Homo sapiens: one gene and its partner. The protein of the gene in region 2 interacts with the protein of the main gene of each other region in a pairwise test. Each region holds a gene or a part of one and is shown on either strand. Other genes may lie near its edges. The genes, in order: TJP2 and EPB41.

The links.
Region 1: the proteins of EPB41 (region 2) and TJP2 interact in a two-hybrid assay, tested with the Homo sapiens proteins (one study listed by BioGRID).

The regions. Positions count from the first base shown.
Region 1 is NC_000009.12:69,175,464-69,186,511, reverse strand, and holds part of TJP2 (tight junction protein 2), read right to left. Parts: intron 8,470-11,048; exon of another isoform or gene 8,383-8,469; intron 1,426-8,382; exon of another isoform or gene 1,308-1,425; intron 1-1,307. UniProt on the Homo sapiens protein: Plays a role in tight junctions and adherens junctions. Acts as a positive regulator of RANKL-induced osteoclast differentiation, potentially via mediating downstream transcriptional activity.
Region 2 is NC_000001.11:29,111,467-29,122,487, reverse strand, and holds the end of EPB41 (protein 4.1), read right to left. Parts: intron 10,121-11,021; coding exon 10,040-10,120; intron 6,790-10,039; coding exon 6,691-6,789; 3' UTR 6,685-6,690; intron 5,670-6,684; 3' UTR 2,447-5,669; downstream 1-2,446. Other genes in the region: TMEM200B (transmembrane protein 200B), read left to right, coding at 660-1,583. UniProt on the Homo sapiens protein: Protein 4.1 is a major structural element of the erythrocyte membrane skeleton. It plays a key role in regulating membrane physical properties of mechanical stability and deformability by stabilizing spectrin-actin interaction. Recruits DLG1 to membranes.

The DNA of each region.
Region 1 (11,048 bases), on a different chromosome or scaffold from region 2:
AGATAAAACCAAATTCTGTCAATATATTTCTAGCACATTCATTTACTAAGCAAGCTTTACAAACAGCCAGCTCACTTGAACTGCTAAACCAGTGGCTGAAATAGTCACTGGTTATACTTATCTTTCCATTTCGAATATTTGCCTTCCTTATCACTTCAAATTTCTCTGCAAGGAGCCTTCGGAAGTAGTACTACAGAAGTATGCCTAAAACGTTAATCAATACATCTTGACCACTCCATTTCTAGCAAATTACCTTAGGGCAGTAATAGTAGGGTCCCTGGAAAGTAAAATAGGTCTGGGTTATAGGAAAAAGTATTTGAAGGAGGAAAAAATTCACATTCTAAAGTTAAGAAAAACTCGGTTCTTTCCACATGTGACATCATTACAGACAGGCTGTTGCCAACATTGGTTCAAGATTTTTAAATGTCTTAAAACCACTACATTGGCCGGGCGCGGCGGCTCACACCTGTAATCCCAGCACTTTGGGAGGCCAAGGCAGGCGGATCATGAGGTCAGGAGATCGAGGCCATCCTGGCTAACACGGTGAAACCCCATCTCTACTAAAAAATACAAAAAATTAGCCAGGCGCAACCGAGACTCCGTCTCCAAAAAAAGAAAAAAAAAAAAAAAGGACTACATTATAGCTCATGTTTCATAAAATAAACTTATAATAGGACAGACACTTCTGCCAGCTGTTTTGGTAGACTACAGTGTTCCCTCCGCGAGAGATTTGAGGTACAAAATATGATAAAAATCTTCCATCTCATTTATCAGAACACAAAGGAAGCTAAAGACAGGGAAAAAAGTAACCCCATCTATCAGCCAGATTTATATATTACCTTTTATTTTATTAATAATAAAGTGGAATGACTTTAAAAAGAAAACACTCATTAGGTTCCATAAAATTATACATTAAAGCAGCAACTCTTAGAATTAAGTCACCTTTCAGCTCTACATTAACTTACAGACTTGAAAACTAATTTCTCAAGCTTATACCTTTAGAAAAGTACCTAGAATCACAGAGCAATAGATACAGAATCTGGAAGGCCCTTCCAGAAAAACAACACCTTATGTGACACGGAGCTCTTACAGTGGCATCCATGTGACTATAAAGTGAAAAGAATGAACATCCGTTACAGAAATCAGTCTGGGTCGGACACGGTGGCTCACGCCTATAATCCCAGCACTTTGGGAGGCCAAGGCAGGCAGATCACCTGAGGTCAGGAGTTCGAGACCAGCCTGGCCAACATGGTGAAACCCTGCCTCTACTAAAAATACAAAAATTAGCCGGGTGTGGTGGCACCCACCTGTAATCCCAGCTACTCGGGAGGCTGAGGCAGGAGAATTGCTTGAATCCGGGAGGCAGAGGTCGCAGTAAGCTGAGATTGCACCACTGCATTCCAGCCTGGGCAACACAGCAAGACTCTGTCTCAAAAAAAAAAAAAAAAGAAATCAGTCTGCTGCCCAAGCGTGGTGACTCACGCCTATAATCCTAGCACTTCGGGAGGCCGAGGTAGGAGGATCGCCTGAGCCCAGGAGTTCAAGGCCCACCTGGGCAACATAGACAGACCTCATCTCTACAAAATATTTAAAAATTAGCCAGGTATGGTGGCGCATGCCCGTGGTTACAGCTAATCGGAGGCTGAGGTGAGAGGATCACTTGAGCCAGGGAAGTCGAGGCTGCAGTGAGCTGTGACGGCACCACTGCACTCCAGCCTGGGTGACAGAGCAAGCCCGTCTCAAAAAAAAAAAAAAAAAAGAAGAGAGAGAGAGAGAAATCAGTCTGAACTGCAGCAGCAGTTCTTGAGGAATGATGAAAATAATAAATTATAACCACTGCCATTTACTGAGCACCTCAAAGCAACCCCAGGTGGCATCTATGCCATTTCTTCTTTGCTGGCACTGAGTTTCTGTTTCTACCAGAGATCCCCCATCTCTCTTGCCAACAGGGTTCTACCAGCGAGGTACACGTGTTTGAGATTTGGAAGGATGAAGGAAAGCAGAAGCCATTTGTTTTTCTTCTTCCTACAGACAGCAGCAGTAGCAGGCAAAAGTTGGATTCCTCAGACATGAGCTTTACAGCATGTCCAGATTCCCTGCCCTTTCACCAGCCTCAAGGCTGGAGATGCTGAGAAGGTGGAAGGTCAAGCAAGACCTTCTGAGTCTTCTCTGGGTGGCAGCAGCTTTCTAACTTTTTTTGCGGCAAATCAGAAAGCCAGCGGTGGGCTTCCATTTTTTGCGCATCTCGCCTTTTCTTTGTCCTGAAGGCAACTAATACTCTGTATTGAATCCCCTTCTCCTTGAAATAGCTAGAATGACATGTCTTCTTGACTGAACCATGACTGATAGGGTAGGCCTATTTTACAACTGAGAAAACTGAACATGAGAAAAAGGTAAATTGCTCAAAGTCAAGCAAGCAAGTGGCAGGACAAAAGAATTCACACCCAGGTTTATTTGACTTCAGAGGTAAAGAATCAAAGTTAAACATCTGTAACCTGGCTGGGCGTGGTGGCTCGCATTTATAATCCCAGCATTTTGGGAGGCCAAGGTGGGCAGACTGCTTGAACTCAGGAGTTGAAGAGAAACCTGTCTCTACTAAAAATACAAAAATTAGCTAGGTGTAGTGGCGCATGCCTGTAATCCCAGCTACTTGGGAGGCTGAAGCAGGAGAATCACTTGAACCTGGGAGGCACAGGTCGCAATGAGCTGAGATCATGCCACTGCACTCCAGCCTGGGTGACAGAGTGAGACTGTCTCAAAAAATATTTTTTTTAATCTAAAATAAGTTTTTTAAAAAATCCCTAACCTATGGTCCTAGGAATTCACACAAGAGAAATGGGTGTACATGTCCACAAGGCAATGTGTAGGTGCTTTTCATGGCAGCTTTATTCATAATAGCAAAAACACTGAAAATAACCCAAATACCTATCAACAGAAGAGATAAGCCAAATGTGACAGATGCATATAAATGGAATACGACTCAGTGGCAAAAAAGAACTACTGAATCTCACGCAACAAATACGGATGAATTTCACAGAGGTTAGGTTGAGTGAAAGATGACAGACATAAAATGTTGATTTTATTTATATATGGGTCCTCTCCCAAGTTCAAGCAAAAGTGTTCCACGGTGAGAGAAGTCAGAAGAGAAGTTCTCTTTTAGGTAGGTGTGGTAATCATTGGAAAAGTGGCAAGAGAGAACCTTCCAGAGTGATGGAAAATTCTAGTTTTTAATCTAGGTGGTAATCATGCAGGTGAATACATTCATGTAAAAATTCACCTACCTCTGGAACTAGAGAGTGATGGTGTTTACAAAATACTGTGAGTGTATTAAATGCCATTGAATTTTATACTTTAAAATGGTTAAAATGGTACACTTAATGTTATGTGTACTTTACCACAATAAATAAAATTCCCTGGCCAGGCACAATGGCTCACGCCTGTAATTCCAGCACTTTGGGAGGCTGAGGCAGGTGGATCACCCGAGATCAGGAGTTCGAGATCAGCCTGACCAACATGAAGAAACCTTGTCTCTACTAAAAAAAAAAAAAATACAAAATTAGCCGGGCATGGTGGTGCGCACCTGTAGTCCCAACTACTCGGGAGGCTGAGGCCGGAGAATTGCTTGAACCTGGAGGGCACAGGTTGTGGTGAGCCGAGATGGCACCACTGCACTTCAGCCTGGGCAACAAGAGTGAAACTCCATCTCAAAAAAAAAAAAAAAAAGAAATTCATCAAGCTCTCTACTTGAGATTTGTGTGTGTGTATATGTATATACATACATATAAATTCAACGAAATTGATAACACAGAAAAAGCTTCATTATCAATAAGCAGACTTGTAACAGAGGTCGTGCCACTGCTTCTACAGGAAAATTTTCTTCATGGAAACATACCAGGCAAATTTTTTTAGCTCTAAGTCTGGCAGATTGAGTCTACCTTTCCTGCCTCTTCCAGATCCTTCACTGCCCAAAGTCATCTGCCAAACTGTGCACTTAAATAGTATAAGTAGACTAAATATTTCTCTCAGACCTTTGATTAAAATTCAATTTAGGCTCAAAACGAACTTGGGGCCTCTTCCTTTCAATGTGTTGCAAACTTGGGGCTTCTTCATTTCAATGTGTTGCCACTTGCCCTTGTTTTTAGGCTTTAACAATAACACCAGAAGGAAACGCACAAATGTTTCCAGCTCCATTTCTGGAAAATTTCAGTGAGTGTCTAAGATGCCACAATGTCTCTCCTCTCTTAAAACTCACCCAGACACTAAACAGACCAGCCCAAGGAAGGCAAAGTGCTCTGCCTGAGGTGACGTTGAAAAACTCCAACATGCCTGAAGTTATGCTGAAACTCAGATGACAGCAGTGATTTTACACCAGTGAACAATGTGGTTTTTTGCAGCAGTGACCAGTAGGCTCATCTTCAACACATTTGTGAAGAACAAATCAGAAAGGGCTCCCAGCTGCAGGCCTGCCCCTCCTTCCAAGCGTATGTCACAGGCAATGAGGCCCGGGGAGAAGTCCATGGGGGTGGAGAGGAAGAGGAAGAGGAAGAAGGATTCTCAAGAAGCTCTGCAAGATGGTTGCAGTTGCTGGCTTAAGCTGCAAAGTAAGGAAGAGAATCCAGCACACGTGGTGCTGGTACATAATTTAAGCTGCAACTGAATAATAGATCTTTCCATCACTTTATGAGCAAAACAACTACCAGCCACTCTTGGACTCTGTCTTTTTAAAAAATGCTTTTCAGAGATAATCCACTGGATCTCTAAAAAAAAAAGAAAGCAAGCAAGCAAACACAAACGTAGTTTAAGGAGCACAAAAACATTTTAAGATGAGAAGAACCAATGGAAATAATTTAGAATGTTCTCTAGGCTTTATACTCAAACTTCAAAACCTTCAGAATCTTAAGCACAAAAGACTTTGAGATGATCAACTGTAACTACTCATTTTCTGATAAAGAAACTGAGAACTAGGCCAGGCGAGGTGGCTCATGCCTATAATCCCAGCACTTCGGGAGGCCAAGGCAGGCGGATCACGAGCTCAGGAGTTCGAGACCAGCCTGGCCAACATGGTGAAGCCCCGTCTCTACCAAAGATACAAAAAATTAGCAGGGTGTGGTGGCGTGTGCCTGTAATCCCAGCTACTTGGGAGGCTGAGGCAGGAGAATCGCTTGAACCTAGGAGGCAGACGTTGCAGTGAGCTGAGATCGGGCCATTGCACTCCAGCCTCAGCGATAGGGCTAGACTCCACCTCAAAAAAAAAAAAAAAAAAAAAAAAAAGAAATTGCAAACTAGAGTCACAAGACAGCAAAAGCCACCCAGCTAATCAGTGGTGCAGCTAATGCTGCTTCCATGCCATTACAAAAATGGTCTAGATGAAATTCTATAATTTTTTTTGGACAAAATTCTCTGGATGAAATTCGCAATTCTAACAAACGATCATCTACTCACTATATAAATGTCAGGAATCCACTGTCCTAATTTCTCAATTAGTCTCTTATTCCTACTAGCTTATACAACAAGCCTGCCCCAAATCAAGTCAGTCCAACGTTTAGTGGATGTGTTGGTGCTCTGTTAGCTTCTGGGGTTACCAAGATGACTCAGACCAGGGAGGGGCTCAGGGCTGATGGGAAGTGATAAGGGCTAGAATAAATACTAGCATGTGCATCCTCACCAATCACAGGCAAGAACACAATTGATTCAGCCAGACTGCAGAAGGGTAACGCAGAAACCAGGCTGCTAAAACTGAGCTCACCAGGAAGTTCCTTCCAAATGATTCATTCCTTTCAAAAACAGAAATGTTTAGTTTTGCTAATTAATTCCCTCAAATAATTTCATCTGCTTTGCCATATATACCTAGGAACAGTCTTCCAAGGACTGAGAGCAGAATGATTGTCTCTCGAAGCCTACATTACTTACTCCTATTCCCATTGTAGAGCTCCACCCAGGGTCTCAGGTGTGCTCAGCTTTAGTAGGCATCAAAGAAACACAACCTAGAACTCGGAACACTTCCTTTAATACTCTGAAAACAAATGACTCTCAACAAATGGAAAAAAATGGCCCCAAGTGGAACATTATTTCCCCCTCAGAAGAACCTAGAAGGTCCTTGAAGCTACATGTCCTGGAAGAGTTAATTCCTACTGATGACTAGAAAGTACTGTTTTCTCTGTTTACCTTCAACTCAAGTGACAAAATCCAAAGTATCTGCAATGTTCTCACGTCTCCACCAAAGCTTTTAATACGATGGCAAAGGCATAACTGGATTTTAGTCACATTCTATTCATTACAGCCATAACTGTTACCTACCAGTAAGAATAACTATTCTAATAACTCTCTCCCACAATGGGTTACAAACATTCCCTCCAAATGCCTGACTTGTCACTAACTCGTGTGTTTAGTACCATAGTTATATAGGGTATCTATAATATAGAGCATACTGTAAAGTTTCCAAAGATGATACCATGTTTTCTCTGTGAACATAATGCATATATTTAATATGGCTGATTAAAGTCTACAATAGAAATAATAATTACCACACTAATTAATTCTGAAGTCCATGTTCACATACACATATAGGTAAAATTTAGTGAACATGTGTACTCAAGAATGTGACATAAGATCCTTGCCATGATTAAAGGTATGATTCGAAATCTTTTGGTCAGCCTAACTTACTAAAACACAAATATTTGATTCATGGAAGATCCATTAAGAGATTCACTTTCAGCCGGGCGCGGTGGCTCACACCTCTAATCCCAGCACTTTGGGAGGCCGAGGCGGGTGGATCACGAGGTCAGGAGATCAAGACCATCCTGGCTAACATGGTGAAACCCCGTCTCTACTAAAAATACAAAAAATTAGCCGGGCGTGGTGGCGGGCGCCTGTAGTCCCAGCTACTGGGGAGGCTGAATGGCGTGAACCCGGGAGGTGGAGCTTGCAGTGAGCCGAGATCGCACCACTGCATTCCAGCCTGGGCGACAGAGGGAGACTCCGTCTCAAAAAAAAAAAAAAAGAAAGAAAAAGAAAAAAGTAACTTACTTTCACCACCACCGCTGTTACTGCACCCCCATACAGTAACTGTAGGAAAACAAAATAGAAACCATAACCACTGATATTCTAATTGAGCTAAAAGGTAAAATAAACATTCATTATAACAAAATGTATCTGACTATGGTCTGCAATATACAATGGTGTGTAAATGGTTAAGGAAAGCTACATTACGTTTTTCAGGTTAAAAAACCTGATTTAACTTTAACCATCTGGCAGAGGCACTAAACAAACATCTGTGCTGATTTTAAATGACTAAAGTACAAGTTACTAATTGAAAGCTTAGGATTTCTCATAAATGGTGTGAACACACACATCACTAGAGAGTCTACTGAAACAGTATTTTCTCTTCTCCTTGATTCATTCGCCTGCCATGAGCATGCATCTCTCTAGGTCAAAGCAGGGATACTTGTTTTCTACCTCAAGGCTTCCTGTTCCTACGAAAATCCTTGTTAAAGCCTATTTTACAGACCAATACAAGCTTCATATTAAAAAAAAAATAAGAAAAAAAAACTCATCCAGTTGGCATTCTTCTGAAAGACTTTGAGAAATTAAATGCATTTACAGGTGAGGCTGTTTGGCTGTCCACATTCTTCGGCAATGAATCATGAGCAAGAGTCACTTGATAATACAGTGATGTCCTTCATCAGTGTCAAAATACTTCCTCCCCTATCACTCTATCATATCAAAAATATCATACCAACAGACCTTTAAAAACTGCAGAATGGCTTGTGGAAGCAGAGAAAGGAATGAGAATTGGGCCAGACGTTAAAACAAACAGCTAGCTCTACAAATACACTGTCTGCAACCACATCTAAGAGATCTGAGTGGATAAGAGCAGGATGCACACGCTTAAGACAGAAAGTCCATCAAATTCAACTTTCCTGGCTATTCTGGGCCATTCTGTGTTTGACTTTCTTGAAGGCGTGGTCAAGGTATACCAGGCTCTCTATAAGTAAGCACCACACTCATATTTTAAGCAGTATTATGCACACCTCAGATGTCAAGGGCTAGCTTTACCATTTTTGCCTTAGCCTCATATTACTCATTCCCAGAGTTGATAATTTTTCTTAAAGCAAACTCACTGCTTTACTTAATATTTATTTTTGCCTCATTCTAAGCAATCTAGCCATGAAATAAATGGATGTGGTAGCTGGTTTTCTGTTTTTATTCCTAACATATAATATTCATGCATCATAATTGAAAAATAGAATATGTATCTCTCTGCACCACCTGTAAGTCTGTCTGTATACCAGACTTTGGAAAGCACTGTTTTGGGATAGCATAAAAGGTAGAGAAAATGCTTTATTAAATGATTAGGTATTTTGGGGGTATGATAGTCCTTACTCTGTCTCCTCTGAGAGCTCACAGGTTATCTAGGATGATGAAGCTTTGGTTGTTTAATGGCCAGCTGGATGATAGAGACACCAATCCCTTTAAAAAACAGAATGGAGCCGTCACTGTTATGGGTAGCCATTGCCCCAGCTTGTGCAGGTCTTCTGGGGCTCTAGCTGTCAGTCACCCAGTTCTAAGAAGTGCTTTTCCTAATCAAATGGAAAAAGTGGAAGCAGACACTCTCCAACTCGGAACTCTGCCTCTCACACTACAATGTATGCAGCATACTAGCTCAACTGCTTTCCTAGGTACCATCCAAAATTAAAACTAGTGGCCGGGCACGGTGGCTCACTTCTGTAATCCCAGCTACTTTGAAGGCTGAAGCAAGAGAACCGCTTGAACCCGGGAGGCAGAGGTTGCAGTGAGCCAAGACCGCACCACCACACTTCAGCCTGGGCAACAGAGCAAGACTCCATCTCCAAAAAAAAAACCAAAAAAACAAAAATAAAATTAAAACTAGCTACTGCAATACTGCATATTGGATTTCCATGCCTGAATTTTTTTTTCCATTGCTATCACACAGCCTTTTCAAAAAGTTTAATAGTAATACCACCTTAGACCCTCCCAAATTCACTTTCTATATGGGCATCTACTAAAAAGGCTGATTGCAAAAATTCCTATGAGGGAGAAACAGGCCCTAAATAGCTTTTTAAACCTTAACAAAGTTCACATAACCATTGATGTGTTTAACCCACTAAATGGGTGTTAAATCTAACCTCTGAGTCTGTGTTTCTGACCCTAACCCTTGGATTTAGGATCAAGACAAAAACTCAGTAAAACACCAGAGAAAACTGTTCTGCTTCCCTCCACTCCCATCTGGGGCAATCTCACCCTCAGACACTACCATATACCAAATCACCTTCTCTGGAAAATCAAGGCTGGTTGGTCCAACAACTGTTGGGCCCCTGATTACTGCTTAGAGTCAAATCAATGAGGCATGTTATTGGGAATCAGCTCTCAACCTAGATAAATTCATCTGTAGCCACAACTGCTTAATGGGATTCGTTCTAGAGATGAGGCAAGGAATTCCCTGGTGGCTCATATTGTTGGTAGAATATGTTGAAAGTTTCAGCAGTGATTGCGAACCCTTCTACCGCTTCACCCCGCCCCCACCACACCCAAACTTCATGCCTCTCCCCAACCAAGTCTGCATGACTTTTTAAATTACTATTTATATTACTACACATATTATTGTACACAGGACTAAAGTGGCCCCGCCTAGTTTCAATAACTTGTGTCTCGTAAAAAGATAACCTTCTTAAGGAGAGAAAACCTTGCTAAACTCAAAATCTCCCTTGCCTTCAGCAGTATGCAGAAAGTTCTCACACTTGTCCTGAAGAGAAATGGTTGGCTGTGAACTTTTGTCAGTGTACAAAGAACTAGATCAAAAGTTAAATGTAGGCAGAAGTCATTGCAAATGCAATTCCCCCGGGGGTGATGTAAAAATTCATTGGTCTTAAGCCTATGAATGCCTCAAAAATAGTTATGGGGTGGGATGTTTACTGGGAAACTGGTTCGCTTCTTTTGTAGGGAAAGTCAAGTCATTTAATACATGAGGGATTTCTGACTTCCCCCCACCCAAAGCTTCGTTATGGCCTTCAAGGCCTTTTAACAGAGTGTGAACAACAACTCTTTCAGTTTTTTCCTGGACACCTACCTGGCACCTCCTACTTGTATCTTTAGATCTCACCTCCCTTATCAACCCAGGACCCAACACTTAAGAGTTTTCAGCACCCGTTTTGTTCCTATTACTAGCTACCACCATTTACGTAGCATCCACCACATGCCTTGTACTCTCTGTCATTTCATTCAGACCTCACTCAGCCCGGTGAGGTGGGCGCATTACTGGCCCCATTTTCTATAGTGGCTTGCTCGGGTGAGGTAACTGTTCAAATGCCCTTTATTCCCAGCAAGAATCCCCTGAAGGGAATGCATATAGGACCAATCCCACTCTTTGCTAAATTTCTGTATTGCAGAGTGTGCATCGGCATCATACATTCCCTCCCTCAGTCTCAGGAATCCCGACACAGATTGCAGAGTAAAGTCTAACAGTTTCAGGTCCACTAGACCCCTAAATGCAGAAATTGAATCTTGTTCATCTTTGTATCCCCCACAGTGACTGGCAGGAGTAGGGGCTCATTCAGTATTATAATATCTGGATGGTACTGAAAAAGTTACAGCAGCATTTCAGAGGGGAAAGTTCCCCTTCATCAATCTGCATAAGTAGCTCTGAAAAGAAATAAAGTGGCCCCACTGCAGAAGTAGTTCTGAAAAAAACACAAGAAACACCTCAAAAGCCACCGGTGCTTTAGTAAAGCACCTCCGCTTCTGCCATCTCCCCACAATGAGGAAGCTCCAGTACCCTGTCCACATTTCTAAATGGCACTCATCGGATTCTTAATGAGTTGCAGGCTTTCCCAACGGGACTGTGTGACAGAGCCACGCTCTTGCTCATCTGCGTAATCCCCACACTGAAGTGGAGTTGTTCATGAAAACTTACTAAATAATCAAATTTCATCCTCTCAAGCAGGATATGCAGTGGTACTTTGCTACAAATACATTTACCACTACGAATTTCTCACTTCAAGCGATCTCCTGCCCAGGTGTGTGCTCTCAGA
Region 2 (11,021 bases):
GGTCTTCCCGGTGTCTAGCTCAAGTCGCTCCTGCTGCAGCTTCGCTGCGGGCGGAGGAGGTCTGGAAGGAGGGGGCGGGCAGGGAGAGGCTGGAGCCGGTGACGCCCCCTCCTCCCGCGCTGCGGTATGTAAAGCACAGTAGGGGGGAGGTGGGGCCCGGCGAGCGACCCCTGCGGACCTGGGAGGCCCGAGCGCCCCCGCCCCATTTGCTACGGTGCAGCCACGTGCGGGGGTGGGGTCGAGCCCGGGAGGTACTTACCCTGGAGACGCGGCAGCTGGGGGCCGCACGTTTCCCGAGGCCCAAGACCCGCGGGCTTGCGGACCGGACGCAGGCGGCAGATTTGCAGCCCGGGATGCGCCAGGGAACAGCCTGCGCCCCCCTCCCTCCTCTCCGCCCGCTGGCCGGGCCAACTCCGGCTTCTGCCGCGCGTGCCTGGCTCGGAGCTCCGCTGCGGAAAACCCGAGCGCGGGCGGCTCCCCGCCTCGCCGCCCGGGAAAATCCGGGGGTGGCCGCCAGGGATCTCCAAGCGGCCTGGGCTGGGCGGCCGGAGCTTCCCTCCCGGATTTGCGCCCCGAACCTGGCGCCCTGAAGCTAGAGGCCCGTCGGTCCAGTCCTTGCCTCCCATCTTCTCTCCGCAGAGCGCCCAGACGACGGCGAGATGACGGCCGGGAGCCCCGAAGAATGCGGGGAGGTGCGGAGGAGCCCCGAGGGCCGCGTCTCTCGCTTGGGCCGCCGCCTGGGCCGCCGCCGGCGCCCGCGCTCCCCGCCCGAGCCTCTGCGGGTGCGGGCGCGGCTGCGGCTGCGCTCGCCGTCGGGGGCGTTCGCGGCGCTGGGGGCGCTCGTGGTACTGGTGGGTATGGGCATTGCAGTGGCCGGCTACTGGCCGCACCGGGCCGGGGCCCCAGGGTCCCGGGCCGCCAATGCCAGCTCGCCCCAGATGAGCGAGCTGCGACGCGAGGGTCGCGGCGGGGGCCGGGCTCACGGCCCGCACGAGCGGCTGCGGCTCCTCGGGCCGGTGATCATGGGCGTCGGCCTGTTCGTGTTCATCTGCGCCAACACACTGCTGTATGAGAACCGAGACTTGGAGACGCGACGGCTCCGCCAGGGGGTGCTGCGGGCCCAGGCGCTCCGGCCCCCCGACGGCCCGGGCTGGGACTGCGCCCTCCTTCCCAGCCCCGGCCCTAGGAGTCCCCGAGCCGTAGGCTGCGCAGAGCCAGAAATCTGGGACCCGTCCCCGCGTCGGGGTACTTCACCCGTCCCGTCAGTGCGGAGTCTGCGTTCAGAGCCCGCTAATCCTCGCTTGGGGTTACCTGCCTTGCTCAACAGCTACCCGCTGAAGGGCCCCGGGCTGCCCCCACCCTGGGGTCCACGGACGCAGACTGGCCATGTGATCATCACCGTGCAGCCGTCTGGCTCCTGCATTGAACATTCCAAGTCTCTGGATCTGGGCCTTGGGGAGCTCCTCCTTGGGGCCCCAGCAGCTCGGGACTGTGCTCACCGAAGCTGGCCACGGCTGGACCGCCTCAGTCTTGGGGGCTATGCCAAATTGGGAGGAGGAGGGGACTTGGGGGCCCGGGTCTGAAGAGAGGGGAGACAGCCTGCTCTGAGGCTGCAGCATGGACCATGCTAATAGGACCAAAGGACCAGGAGTCCCAACGTCTAATAGATGTTTCAGTCACATCCCAGGCTGGGGATGGATGCTCTGACCACAGCAGCTGTGAAGGGCATCCTGACCTGCATGCGGGCAGAGAAATGCCAGCTGCACCAGGGCTCAGTGAGCTGGAGAGGGTGCGTTTCACTGTGGGGTGTGGAGGACTCGCCTCAGGAATTTCTTCAGCCTCTGTAAGTGGCCTTAGCCCTAACAGGGCTGGAGGTCCAGGCCAGGGTGACTGGGAGATGTACCCAGTGTCTTGGCAAACCCAAGAAAGTGGTGGGCAAGGGCCCCTAAGACTGGGAGGTAGGTTGGGATGTTACAGGCTGGGGCAGGCTCCCTCCAAGGCGGCACTGGTGATGGAGTGTGGGGCCTCTGGGAAGATGGACCACGGGATGAGACTCTCCACTGCCATCTGGGACGGGGACTGAGCCTTGAACTCCTACCACCTCAATCCCTTTCTTCCCTCAGCCATCTGGGGTATATCCCTCTAGAGCTACACTACTGCCAATGCCTTCATACTGAGTTCTGGGCCCTTCTGCAAATAAGTCTGAGAAGCCCCTTCTCTCCTTCCTTTATCGTGGCCTATGCTGCAGAATCTCACTGCAGCTGGCAAAAGGCATTGGCCAGCTCTCAGAAATCCCTTTACTCAACGTTGAAGCTGCATTTTGGTCAATGTGGGTAACTTACTTTAGAAAATGACTTGAGTTTAGGTCTCCCCCACCCATATTTAATTTTTCCCAAGTTGCTGGTAGAAGAGAAATTTAAAAGTGGATCAATCCTCACAGAGAGAGTTCTTTTTGTTGTTGTTTATTGAAAAAAATGCAATACAAGAAGCAAGACCAAACAGATATCTAAACACTACAACCACTTCTACTACGAAAGGCCAAAACAGCAGACTTGATTATTGCCTGTGTAGTCTAAAGATTCTGCCAATCTGATTCTGCTGCCCGAGTTCCTATTTTTTCAAGAAATGTAAACAACTACTTGATATGATTCATAATTTTAAAAAAAATTTACAAAGCTCCTTCATTTTTGTCACCAAAATAATACATTTGAGAGAGATTTGTAGAAACAACCAGCCTGGGGCTGAGATCCTGGGCAGAAATTTCCCGTGAGCATCAAAAGGCGTCAGTCAGGCCGCAGCTCTGGCTCCAGTTCCCGAGGTTTGTTGTCTCCTCACCCCCAGCTGCCAAGCATCCCCCCAACACACACTGATGGGCCCAGCGGTGGAGGGGGGGGTGGGGACGGGGATGGGTCACGGGGCCCTGACGGGTCCCGCAGTTAGGCTCCCTGAGCCCTCGGCTTATAAATACAGGTCTTGCTTTGTGGGTGGGTGCCAGAGTCCTCATGTGGCTTGGAGGAAATCTTTATTTCTCAAATTAAAATAAAATTGCAGCGAGAGTTGTTACTGTGGTGTGTCTGAGTCACTCTAGGAAAACTGTTGCCAAGTTTCTGACCCTGGAAATGTAATTCTCTTCCCCCTCCTCACCATTTCTACCTGGACAGAGTCTGTTTTTCTTCACACAAACACACATACACACAACTGCAGAAAGAAAAAAAATCCAAACAATTGCCAAACCCCAAGAACTGTTGCCAGAGATGGAGGAAAGGGGAAGAGGCCTGGAAGGACACCCATCTTGCTGGGCTTGTCCAAATCTATGGCTTCTAAGAGCCTGAAAGGCATTAGAGCTCTTTTCATCCAATTTACAGACAACGAAGCCGAGAGAAGTGAGTTGGTGACAGAGCTGAGGGAAACGTTTAGGCCCCCGATGAACGGTCCTGTGCTGTGAAAGCTGCCACACTGTTCTAGATCACACGGAATATTCAGTGGGTTAGTTTTTAAAGGGACACTCAGTGCCCTCTGCCTTTTCCCCATCCTCTTCGTTCCACAGGTCTGGAAGCCCTGGTAGCTCTTCCTACAGGCCATCTGGCCATCAGGCAGTGGGCATGCACTACATGTTCGTTTGATGTAAGCTGCATTTCTTGTCACCACTCCTGGCAACACGACCAGGCTTGGGCACTACCCCAAAGCCCACCTTTCAGACCCTCTGCCCACAGCCTATAATTTTGTTCCTGAGATAGGACAAGCTCTTTCCCCTAAGCCTGTCCCACGTCCCACCTGGGCTCTTTCCCTCCCTCCTGTTGTTCATGTCTCACATGGGTACCAAAAGAAAAATGCACACACCCGAAATGAGTTCAAACCAGCCGAAACAAAACTCAGGCAGTGGAGACTTTGGACGGTGTTGGGAGAAGCAGCTTTAGACATTTCTCTTGCTCACTGCCCTTGAGCCCCAGTGACTGCTGCCCGATACCCACTGTCTATTTTAGGAAGCTGGAACTGGGATTCTAAGGAGCCTTGAGGCCAATGTGTTTGTGGGAAGCAGTTGGAAGGTTAGAGAAGTTCTGTTAAATAAAAATGCCCCAAATCGGCCGGGCGTGGTGGCTCACACCTGTAATCCCAGCACTTTGGGAGGCCAAGGTGGGTGGATCACCTGAGGTCAGGAGTTCGAGACCAGCCTAACAAGGTGAAATCCCGTTTCTACTAAAAATACAAAAAATTTGCTGGGCGTGGTGGTGTGCGCCTGTCATCCCAGCTACTTGGGAGGCTGAGGCAAGAGAACTGCTTGAACCCAGGAGGCGGAGGTTGCAGTGAGCCGAGATCGCGCCACTGCACTCCAGCTTGGGCAACAAGAGCGAAACTCCGTCTCAAAAAAACAAAAAACTATGCCCCAAATCCTTACCAGGAATTAGGGCATCATCTTCACTTTCAAAAATCAAAATGAAAAAAAGGAAAACTAAGCCCCAAACCCACCACAAAATCAAGCCTTCAAAACCTGACAGACCTCAGCTGGTGAGTGGGAATGAGCAGGGCTGGGGCTTATACCCCTTGTCATGTGGTGTCTTGTGGGGAGAACGGCTCCTAAAAGTCAATTCCTTGCTCTAGAAGGGTGTCCTCAGGCAGGTTCCTGTTGAGAGAAGAAAGGTCAAAAAAGAAAAACCCTTCTCTGAGCCACATTCCTTGTCATTTGGGATGAAAGAAAGGCCCAGGATCAGACAGAAGTAACCCCATTCCCCTGTGTGAAGTGCACACTCTCAAAACTAGAAAACCTTATTTTAAAAACCTCATTAACTTTCCTTCCCCAAATCACCACTAAAAATGTTCCATTAGAGCTTTTGGCCCAAAGTGCCTATTTTTCTGTGAGATTTGGTCTCCTGAGATGGGAGCTAGGGGGAGCACTTAGCTGAGCCACTGCTTCTGATGAGGTAAAAGGGTAGCTGGAGAGGTGAAGGCCACGGATATGTTCAAACATTCACAGTATCAGATATCTGAAGCAACTTCCATGTCTTTGACCCAAAGAAGCTCCAAAAAGAAAGCAGGAGGGAGAGGGGAAAAACAATACTACATTCTCAGCAGAGGGCTCTGCCTTACCAAAACCACCCGCAACAAAGGAACAGGGGCATCTTTCCGAGGTCTGTGGATCAGGGCTGGTGCCCTCCCTGGCATTCTGATACACTCACATCACTGGCTCTGAGAAAGGGCTGGTTCATGAAGTTTCTGCCATCATCCAAAGGGGATAAGACTAGGGAGAGACGCGGAAGTCCCACTAAGCTGGCTTTGGCTTCCAACACAGCTGACAAGAGTCCTTGGAGGATTTCCCGAAGAATTCCATGGACCCTGTCAGTGTCTGTTGGGGTTGGAAATAAATGGGCAGAGAGGCTAGGCTGAAGGGGTTACAAACCACCCAATTAAAAAAACCCCAAAACTCTTAAAACAGTCTATAGAGTGAAAAGTTGAACAATTCTGATATCCTAATATAGAAAAAGCTCTTCAAAAGGATCAATGAGATCTAGAAGAATCTCTTGGTATAAACTCCCAATAGAAACTGAAATTAATTTTCTGGTGATTTAGAATAATCTTGAAAGTCTGAAGTCTGACTATGGCAGGTTAGCTTCTTTATCATTTTGCTGGTTTCTCTTGGATGGGAGAAGGGCAGAGTTGGGGTAGGTTAGTTCCTAGAGAAAACAAAGAAGCAAAATTTAAAATCCTGCAAAGGAAAAAGCTTCCTAGTCCCATTGCCAAGTTCCTGTGGCCATCAGTGACAATGGGGATGTGAGCAGGTTTACAGGGCCTGGTCCCACCTAGTGAGATTGGTGGCTTCTTCAAGTCTTTTTAAAATTACTTTTAGGCATGAATTTATCTGGATCCCTGGTTCCCAAAAAGCAGCTTCCCTGCTCCCAGCTCTCTACTCTGGTCTCAGAGCTTCAGCCATTACCTCCCTGCTCTGCATGCCCACCCATCTCCAGACAGCCTGATCCTGCTCTTCTTGGTTTTTTCTCCTCTGGCTTTCCCAGGTTCTGGCTCAAAGATACCTGTGACTGGCCAGGCGCGGTGGCTCATGCCTGTAATCCCAGCCCAGCACTTTGGGAGGCCAAGCCAGGTGGATCATTTGAGGTCAGGAGTTCGAGACTAACCTGGCCAACATGGTGAAACCCCGTCTCTACTAAAAATACAAAAATTAGCTGGGCATGGTGGCACATGCCTGTAGTCCCACCTTCTTGGGAGGCTAAGGCAGAATTCCTTGAACCCGGGAGGCGGAGGTTGCAGTGAGCTAAGATCATGCCACTGCACTCAAGCCTGGGTGACAGAATGAGACTCCGTCTCAAAAAAAAAAAAAAAAAAAGAGAGACCTGTGACAGCAGCAAGCAGAGCAGTAGAGAGAAGAGAGGGGGAAGGTGAAGTGGATCTCCAGCAGGATGCATGAAGACTCAGAGGGTAGCTGGGGGCTTATATCCAAGTTTGGGTCCCTCCTCTTACCCAATAATGCTGGCACTGCTACAGGCTGCTTTAGTTGGAGCCAAATACTTAATTTCCTATATCTCCCACATCAGCCTCTCGTCTGCCTTTATCAAGTCCCAGGGTGAACACCTCTTTGTGGGGATGGGCTCCCAGTGTGTCCGAGGGTCCCATCCAGAGCCCTCTCAGGCTGGGACTGTGGGCACCCTCAGCCCCAGCAGGAACGCCCAGTACCTGAGCTCACTCATCAGCAATCTCGGTCTCCTGGTGGACGACCACCTTGGTCACTGACATGTCTGGGTGCTGCTCCTTTGCCTCCTTGATGGCTTGTACAAGGACCTACAAAAGACAGAAACAAGGGCAATGAGGCAGAAAATAGCCTGATGGCGAAGGAAGGCAGTGGTCATCATTTCTCTGATGTTCTGACAGATCCAATACTCCTGTCTGCAGTACCAGGGCAGCTTTAGGCTAAGCCAAGCTGATAATTACCTTACCCACCCTATCCTGCATAGGGAGGCTTCTGGACTGATAACACAGGGACAGGGAAGGTTAGCGCTGTCTTCTAGGAACTGGAGAGGGACTTCGGGGGTCATAGCTGTATCTGTTATATGATCCTTTATTTTTTTTTTATTTTTTGTTGTTGTTGAGATGGAGTCTCGCTCCGTCACCCAGGCTGGAGTGCAATGGTGCAATCTCGGCTCACTGCAACCTCCGCCTCCCAGGTTCAAGCAGTTCTCCTGCTTCAGCCTCCTGAGTAGCTGGGATTACGGGTGTGTACCACTACGCCCAGCTAATTTTTGTATTTTTTGTAGAGATGGGGTTTCACCATGTTGGCCAGACTGGTCTCGAACTCCTGACCTCAAATGATCCACCTGGCTTGGCCTCCCAAAGTGCTGGGATGACAGGTGTGAGCCACTGCACCTGGCCTATATTATCTATTATACCTATCTATTATCTATCATTATACCTGGAGGGTCTGAGAGGATTCACTCAAGATGTGAATCTAAAGGACAAAACAACATCTGTGTTCAGCATGGGTAAGTGGCAAGTTCAGGACGGGAGAGGAAAGTAAAGAAGTGTGCAAGAAAAAGGAAGAGATGTCCTTGGCCAAAGTAGAAGAAAGGAAGGAAGAGGACAAGGGACTGTTATATGCCATGCACTAGCCTAAGTACATTACTTATTACTTAAACTCTATTAAGTTATAATTTATTAATAACTATATTGTTATTAAGATAATAACTATTATCATTACTTTTTACTTAAACATGACAACTTAGTGCATTAAGGTAATGTAATTTTTTGCATTTTATAGGTGAGGAAACTGAATTTCAGTAAAGAGCTTACTGTTTCATAGCTAGTAGGTAGTGAAACAGGGACTTTTTTTTTTTTTTTTTTTTTTTTAGACGGAGTCTCACTGCCCAGGCTGGAGTGCAGTGGTGTGATCTTGGCTCACTGAAACCTCTGCCTCCTGGGTTCAAGCGATTCTTGTGCCTCAGCCTCCCAAGTAGCTGGGGTTACAGGTGTCCGTGACCACGTCTGGCTAATTTTTGTATTTTTAGTAGAGACAGTGTTTTGCCACCTTGGCCAGGCTGGTCTCGAACTCCTGACCTCAGGTGATCCACCTTGCTCGGCCTCCCAAAGTACTGGGATTATAGGCGTGAGCCAACGCACCCAGCCGTGCAATAGGGATTTTAACTCAAGTCGATCAGACTTTCCTCTTTACCACACTGTTGTTTAGTTTCTGAGGGGGTCCCTGTTTGAGGATCTGGAGGAGCTTTGATTACTTTAGAAAAGCTAAAGAGAGCAGAGGGAAAGTCAAAAGAGCAAAAACACCATCCTCTTTGGGCTGCAGTCTCTGAATTTGCAGGCTCCCCTATGGAAAAGGACTCAGCTAGAAATGACCAGCTGACTACTCACCTGGCTCTTAAGAACCATCTCTAGAAGGGGCAAGGGAAGAAGGAAAACCCTCTTCTGGTCTCCTGGCTCTATGAATGGCATTCTTAGAACTACCACCTCTGTGGGCCCCTGACCATCCTCCCTGATCCTGTTTGCCCAACCCATCTGCTCACACCTCAGGCCCAGCTCAAGTCTTCTCTTTGTGACTCTGCCTCCGCCCACCTCTCTATGAAACCTGCTGCTCCACACTGCTTCTCCTTAACAGTTCTTAAAGTGCCTCCCTCGCCAGCCAGAGTGTACCATAGCTTACCCCTTCCATGCACTCTCAGTAACTAGAAAACCTGAGGGACACTGGAGCATCTCTCTGAGCTACCAAGTGTGTTTGGCCCTTATGACCCTGGAAGAAACCTGTGATCATCCTTATTTTACAGATGGTAAAACTAGAGCTCAGGTTGGTAATATAAGTTGCTCAAGGACATATAACCAATTAGGTCGCAGAGTCAGGATTCAGCCCAAGTCTGTCTCACTCCAAACCTCAAACACCTTTCACCGCATTGCTTTTGCTGTCTAGTGCAGACTGAGCACGTAGCAGGGGCTCAGATCACACCAGACTGAGTGGGTGGGTGCAGGCTTCTAAAGCAGCGGGACCCACTGAGCTGGGCCAACAGGCTGCAAGATATTTAGGCTTTGCAGCCTTGTTTCTGGGACCCTGTGTCCACTATTCTCAGCTGTAACTCTCAACCCTGCCTCCAAGGGAACTGCCAGCACTGTAGCTCAGTTTTTCTTTTTTTAAAGGCACTCAGCATATCAGCATAAAAAGGCCACAGAATTATTGCTCCAGCAACCCAGTCAACGATTCCAGAAGCATTTGCATGCAATCTCTTCCACCCCCTCTTCTCTGCAGCTTTACTGTTCTAACCTCACCCAGCAGAGAACTGGGAACATTAATCCTGACCTTATTATTTGCTAATTGCTTGCAGCACACAATTAGCACCCAATTAACATAAAAATATAGAATTTTAGCACTCAGGCCCAGAAATTATCTAGATCAACCCACTCTCTTTTAGGAAAGGAGAAAAAAATCAGCGGAAAAGTGATTTGCCCAAGGTCACACAGCAAGTTAGAGATGTAGGGCAGAAAACAAGTTTCGAGTCTGCTGGTGTCTTGTCCACCATACTATGCTCCCGCTCGTGTCTTCTCGGCTGTTACAGCTCTCTAAGGGTAGGGGCATGCTTCCCTTTGTTTTGATGTTGTCTAGCATGGGTTCAGGTACCTTTACCTTCGGAATAACAATAGCTCCATTTAACTGAGCTCACCATGTGCCACCAGCTGTTCATCCAGTATTTCACCTGATTCTCACAACAACCCTGAGAGGGAGATACTATCATCTTCATCTTACAGATGCAAAATGGAGGCCCAGAGAGTTAACAGCTAGAATATATTAAGAACCAGCAATTGAATCAAGTCTTGGAATCCAAAGCTCATGTTCTTTCCATTACATTTCCTGGCTCCTCAATCTGTGGCCTCCATCCCACAGGCCTCTTACTTTGATTGTCTTTGTCTTTCTTCTCAATTAAGAGCTAGAGTGGCCAAAGAGGCTTTTTGCAGATGAAGATGGCAAACAAACTCCTGTATTCATCGGTCTTCCTGCCCAGGGACCCCTCCCAGGCCCAGATCTCTTCAACATTCCCACCTGATCATGGTCAATATCAGCATCTCCTGTGATCACAATTCTCTTTTCAATACGTGTCTCTGAAATCCCACCTTTTACAGTCTGGAACCAAAGAGAAGATGTCATATGAGATCAGCGATATAACAAGAATTAAAAAAAAAGAAAAAGAGGCCAGGTTTAGTGGTTCACACTTGTAATCTCAACACTTTGGGAGGCTGAGATAGGAGGAATGCTTGCGGCCAGGAGTTTGAGACCAGCCTGGGCAACATAATGAGACCTCGTCTCTATTAACAAACAAACAAACAAAAAAAGAAAAATAGCAAAGATTATTCCGAAAGCTCCACTCCAAATTTTAATCTACTGCTGGGTACTGCAAAGGACAGCTTTCTAACCTACTTGTCCAAAATCTCAACCAGACCTGCTACTTCTACTCCCTTGTAGAGTACACTTCTACTCCCCTGGATTATTAAAATCTTTGTTTTTTTTTTTTTTTGAGACAGAGTCTCGCTCTGTTGTCCAGGCTGGAGTGTAGTGGTGTGATCTCGGCTCACTGCAACCTCTGCCTCCCGGGTTCAAGCAATTCTCCTGCCTCAGCCTCCTGAGTAGATGGGACTACAGGCACGCACCACCATGCCCAGCTAATTTTTGGATTTTTAGTAGAGATGGGGTTTCACTATGTTGGCCAGGCTGGTCTCAAACTCCTGACCTTGTGATCCACCCACCTCAGCCTCCCAAAGTGCTTGGATTACAGGCGTGAGCCACCACATCCAGCCTTGATTACTACAATCTTTTTTATTTATTTATTTATTTATTTTTTGAGACGGAGTCTTGCTCTGTCGCCCAGGCTGGAGTACAGTGGTGCGATCTCGGCTCACTGCAAGCTCTGTCTACTGGGTTCACACCATTCTCCTGCCTCAGCCTCCCAAGTAGCTGGGACTACAGGCGCCTGCCACCACGCCCGGCTAATTTTTTCTATTTTTAGTAGAGACGGGGTTTTTTGTCA